Linked DNA regions of Homo sapiens: region 2 is linked to region 1. The links come from fine-mapping of genetic effects on gene expression. A gene starts in region 1. The other region holds a variant in brackets. All regions are shown on one strand. Distances are from middle to middle.

What was found. PIP is the estimated chance that this variant, and not a neighbour inherited with it, causes the effect. A credible set is the group of variants that fine-mapping cannot tell apart.
Region 2: its variant is the best candidate, but not a certain one, in a credible set for the expression of WDR49 in lung (TOPMed, PIP 0.73).

The regions. Positions count from the first base shown.
Region 1 is chr3:167,652,395-167,655,320 of GRCh38, forward strand. It overlaps WDR49 (WD repeat domain 49), which reads right to left and starts at 1,548. Exons shown (of 19, transcript NM_001366157.1): 1 at 1,440-1,548; 2 at 867-1,105. The coding sequence starts at 1,031. RefSeq lists enhancers at 762-1,285, 1,286-1,808.
Region 2 is chr3:167,469,728-167,472,653 of GRCh38, forward strand. It overlaps SERPINI2 (serpin family I member 2), which reads right to left. Exons shown (of 9, transcript NM_006217.6): 2 at 1,861-2,117. The coding sequence starts at 2,107. LOC105374197 (a long non-coding RNA gene) reads left to right here. Exons shown (of 3, transcript XR_924683.3): 2 at 1,338-1,394. Among named protein-coding and RNA genes, the nearest start is that of SERPINI2, 2.9 kb to the right of the region's middle. The variant AATC/A (reference allele first, on the strand shown) is at 1,210.

The DNA.
Region 1 (2,926 bases):
CAAATTAGTATGGATACTCCAAGCACCCACGGACAATCTTAAGAAGGCCCTAGATCATACTTTAGTAAACATAATATAGTAGAAATGTTGGAGGCTCATGACTACCTAAATTCTACGTCATGGAAGAGCACTTCTTTCTACCCATATTTGAAACTAAAAACCACTTTGATGTATGCTGTTCATTATGCATAGCTGCAGAATTCAAAATTCATTGACTAAGAGAGAAGAAAATTATTCATTTACAGTTAAATTCCTATGGTTTATTTTTTATGCAGAGTTAAAATGAAAAATTCTAATTTTGTTTTTATTGGCATTGTTCCAGGATTTACAAAATGAGTGGGAGACTCGTCCCTCATAAGGGATCTTGGGACAACAAAGTGCCAGAATCAGCTTAGAAAAGGAGCTGTGCCACTTAGGGTGAGTGAGACAGGAGGAAATTTTTTGCAAACTGGGTATGCATATTTGCATTTGCTGAGTTCTATGTCCGTATTAAATGCAAGAACAATTATTCCTGGAGGTCACCTTAGAGATCTGGCTTTCTTCACTCACAGCCATAATTTTTTGTTTCCCCAAAATATGTTGATCTCTAAGAAAAAAATTTTTTCCAACAATAAATAGTTCTTTCTTGATAGTAATGAAATTCAGTGAAGCAATTTCAAACTAAAGAATATTATTTGGCCCAAAGAACTGAGGGGCAAAGCTACCAAGCACATTGTGTTAAATCCAGGCCTAACCAATTATTTTTAATTCTCTGCTATAACAATTAAGTGTATTTTTTTAATGCTTAAAGAAAAATATCTCTGTGTTTCATTCTAGGCTCCTTCATGAACAACTCAAACTATCTGGTCAATAAGCTTCACACTTACCTCAAAGGCCTTCTGTATTTTTACAAAGTCACCCACGCTGAGTTGGTTTTCAAGCAGGCCTGTGCCATAGTCTTCAAATGCAGTTACACCTTCTGTTCTCTCAGGACTCTTTGGCCCAAGCTGTGACCCTATGTTTAACTCAAGTACAGCTTTCTGGCAACTCATAATGGCTTCACCTTTTCTCAGTTGCCTTCAACTATTTCTATAAGGATGGATCTTCTTTTTCCTTCAACAGGTGCCTTTGAAAAGAAACTCAACTTAGCAACAGAATTCCAAAATGAAAGTACAAACCTTTCAAGGCATACGATCAGGAGGCAAAATGTTCAAGCTGAGGTAGGAAATGAAAGCCCTCAACCCTCTCACTTATTTGATTCTAGAGTTTATTTTCAAAATTTACAGTTGAATGCTTTTAAAATGGTATTTTTACCCCTTCCTTATACTCTGTTTAACCTGGCTTGATTAAAAATGTGTAAAGCTTTCCCCACATTTATAGTAACTGACACAGAAAACAACTTCCAATCCTCATTTTAAATGCATTAGAAAAGCACCTTCCCAAAAATCTCTTTAACTAACCTTGCTTCCATTAACATGTTGTAGTTTTCAATTCCACTTTCTTGTCTGGAAGAGTTAGATGACAAAGCTGCAGAGTTTCCCTACCAATGAAGTACTTGACTCTGAATGCCACCTTCCCAGCAATGTGGAGTTGTTTGTTTCATCTGTTCTGATCCTTTTGTATGTTTCCTGGCAACCAACACAAAGCCAACTAAAACTTTCCCTTTCACTTCCCCCTCTCCAACTGAAAGTTTAAATATATAATGTAAATGTTGAAATGGTTTTTTTTGAAATAAAAGGACAGTTCATTCCACTCATTTTTTATTAAACGACATCTTGTATTATTTAAAGACAACTTTTACCATTATATAGGATATATATTATGAAACTATATGATTAGTCAAAGAGAAAAGCATGAAATTCTGGAATTTTATGTTTTATACACAGAAAATGTTTTATTTTTATATAAAAGGAATCTGTTTCTTATATTCTTTTTGTCTTAGTTTCTATGTATATAAAATAGAGATGGTTCAAAAAAGCTTCCAACTTGTTGAAAATGTGATAAAAAAACACAGCATAACATAATATGATAAATCTAATGATAAAATTGCTTGCAGTGTCATTACTGGTTCAGCTAATAATAATGAAAAGGAGGAGAAAAAGAAGAAAAATTAACATTTTTTGAGTATTAACCATGTGCCAGGCACTAAAACTTTATGTTCATTGTCTTGTTTAAGCTTCACAACAATCCTACAAGGCAGATGTGATCATTATCCCCATTTTACTGATAAAGAAGCAAAAAGCCGGGCAAGGTGGCTCACGCCTGTAATCCCTGCACTTTGGGAGGCTGAGGCAGGTGGATGGCTTCAGCTCAGGAGTTCGAGAGCAGCCTGGGCAACATGACGAGACATTGTATCTAGTAAAAATACAAAAATAATCAGCCGAGCATGGTGGCGCACACCTGTGATCCCAGCTACTCGGGAGGCTGAGTTAGAAGGATCCCTTGAACCTGGGGGGCAGAGGTTGCAGTGAGCCAAGATTGTGCCACTGCACTCCAGCCTGGGCAACAGAATGAGACCCTGTCTCAAAAAAGAAAAAAAAAAAAAGCAAAGAAAATGCCAAAGGTCACACAAATAGTAACATACGGAAGAGAACAGAATGGCTCCCAAACTTCAGATACTGCATGTATTAGTCTGTTTTCACACTGCTAATGAAGACATACCTGAGACTGGGTAATTTATAAAGGAAAGAGGTTTAATTGACTCATAATTTCACATGGCTGGGGAGGCCTCAAAATCATGACAGAAAGCTAATGAGGGCAAAGTCATGACTTACATGGCAGTAGGCAAGACAGCATGTGCAGGGTAACTCCCATTTATAAAACCATCAGATCTCATGAGACTTATTCACTACCAGGAGAACAGTATGGGGAAACCGCCCCCTTGAGTCAATTATCTCCACCTGGCCACGCCCTTGTCATGTGAGGATTATTACAATTCAAGGTGAGA
Region 2 (2,926 bases), 180 kb before region 1:
AGAACTGAGGACACTGAGAGCCTTACATAATATATGAGAATTAATATTCTTATTAATATATTAGTGAGAATATATTGCTCTTATATTCTTAATCCTCACTGAATTATTTTAGGAATTAGCACTGAGCAAATTATTTAACCTTTCTTTGCCTCAGTTTTCTCAGGTTTATTACAAGGTTGTTTACTTAACAAAGTAATTATAAATATTAAATGAGAGAATATATATTAAGCACATGAAACAGTGGCTGATATCCTTTCTATATTTTTGATAGTGCGTTATTACTATTACTTTATCATGTTCACAATTCACACCTGTTAAAACTTCTGTGTTTCTCTATATCATGTATCCATTTAAAGTAATTTAAGTTTTCAGAGACTCTAATTTATGTATCTTCACAAATATTGTATTACTTTTTCAAAGCTATAGCATGTGGTTTAAACGTTTCTGGGAGTGGTATATTGGGATTTGCTGAAATTAATCAAGACTAAATCTGGAATACATTGGCTTCAGTGTGCACTATTTGCAAAGAAAAATTCTTACAATTAACTTCACTTCACTATTACCAACGTCTTTTCTGTATAAAATTGTCTTTATTTAAAATGAAGCAAATAAAATCTTGTAAATAGTATTTTCAGGAAAGCAAATTTCTAAATACTGCTACTCTGTGATAAGAAAAATACACTGAAATTATAGTTGTAGCAACTAAATTCCCAAATCAAAAATCTGTATTTAGAACACAGTATCTCAGAGTAATCCAAAAGCTGAAAATTAAAACAACTATAGAAACTGAGAGCATGAGATAGCTGAGGAGATGAGCAACAACTTTTTTTTTTTTTTTTTTTTTTTTTTTTTGGAGAAGGAGTCTGTTCTTTTGCCCTGGCTGGAGTGCAGTGGCACGATCTCAGCTCACTGCAACCTCTGCCTCTTGGGTTCAAGCACTTCTCCTGCCTTAGCCTCTCAAGTAGCTGAGACTATAGGCACATGCCACCATGCCTTGCAAATTTTTGTATTTTTCCAGCCTGGTCTCGAACTCCTGACCTCAAGTGATCCACCTGCCTCAGCCTCCCAAAGTGCTGAGATTACATGTGTGAGCCACCACACCAGCCAAGCAACAATTCTTTCAAATGGGATGCCAGCACAAAAGCACAGTATCCCAGTAAGAGGGATAGACACTATCCCAGACAGTCCATGAGGAGACTCCAACAAAAC[AATC/A]ATCATTCACAAGCACAAAGGCCTCTGATTATTTAAATCCTTTTTTTTCCATTTTCCTTTTAAAACTAGTAACAAATAAGCTTTTAAAATGAACAAATTAATGTTTTTTCTTGGTCTCGTTACAGATGAGGTGCATTTTTTTTAAGAGAAATGTTGGAAACAACCTACTGAAGAAAGGCTAAGTAAGTAATGGTACTTCTATAAGAGGCAATAAGATACAGTAATTAAAAATCATATTTTGAATCAGTTCCATGACATGGGAAAATGATCACAACATAGTGATAGTGGAAGAATATGTATGTGTATAGATGTATATTTTATGAGTATGTACATACACACACACACATGCACGCCCAGTATAATCTCAAGTAATTAAAACTGGCTAAAACAAACTAAAAGAAAATGTACAAATATTTACTTAATTTTACATTTATATAGATGTCAATTTCTTAATAATTTTTGTAACCTTTTAAAGGAATTAATTATAAATGAATGAAAATTACATTTACAATTCTCCATTTTATTACAATTTTGTACTTTTCATTACATTTTCACTTATTAAAATTTCTTTATCCTGAACTTCTAATATTAAAAAATGAATGCGTCCATATCTTATCCAGTATAAGTAAGGAGATGTAAGAGTCTCACCAGCTGAGGTTTCCTGTTGTTTTAAAGTTTGTCTTATCTGCTGCTGTGCTTTTCCTTTGGCTCCCAGTTGTACCATCTCAAGAACCAAAGTTATTCCAAGGGGTGAAAATATAATGTTGTCCTTATGAGATAAGGAAACCTCTTGATAAAGATCCACTGCAAATTCGGTATTTTTTTGAGCTGAGCATCTTGAGGCTTGACTTCCAAAAAACAGCAATAGAAGACTCCACAAGAAGATTGTGTCCATTTTGACTTCTCTGTATTGTTTAAATCAAAATATATTCATTTTCAAAATAGAGTTTTCCACAGAGAGCTCAACAGAAAACTTTCTACCTGTTGTAGCTTTCTATCTTAATAGAACTTACTACCACAAGTGAACTCTATCCAATTAGATTTCTAAGTATCATCTATTCAGAAAAATAGTTCATGTGTTAATGGTATTTCTTACATATCTTCAAGAACCAGTAGAAAATATACTTGTAGTTTTGTAGCAAAAATCAAAAAAGACACTACAATGTTGGAATGTTATCAATGGCAATGGTATCTCCAAATAGTTATACAATAGTTTTTTTCTATCTTTTCTCATGGTTAAGTGGGATAACTGTAACTCTGACATCAGGTAAACCTTCTGTGCTGTCTACTCTACAGTAATTTATAGATCAAGAGGAAGAAATGGAATAAAAACAGACTTACTCCAGTGTGGTTTTAGACCTATAATATTAGAAAATTAATGTATTCTAAAGCAACTGAGTAATCTGGCTAACTTTTTACAATTTTCCTCACGCTTTATTTCTTAGGACAAAATAACCCAAAGCCCTCTTCCTGCTTTTCCAAAAGAAGACAAATACAATGCAGAAAACCTGCAAAGTTTGAAACAAAATGGCAATCAAATATAAATGATACAATAAAGTACTATGCTCACTACCTGGGTGATGAGATCATTTATACCCCAAACCTTAGTGTCAGGCCATATACCCATGTAGCAAACCTGCACATGTACATTAATCTGTAATAAAACTTGAAATTATAAAAGAAAAAATATAAATAAAATGAAATATAATATCAA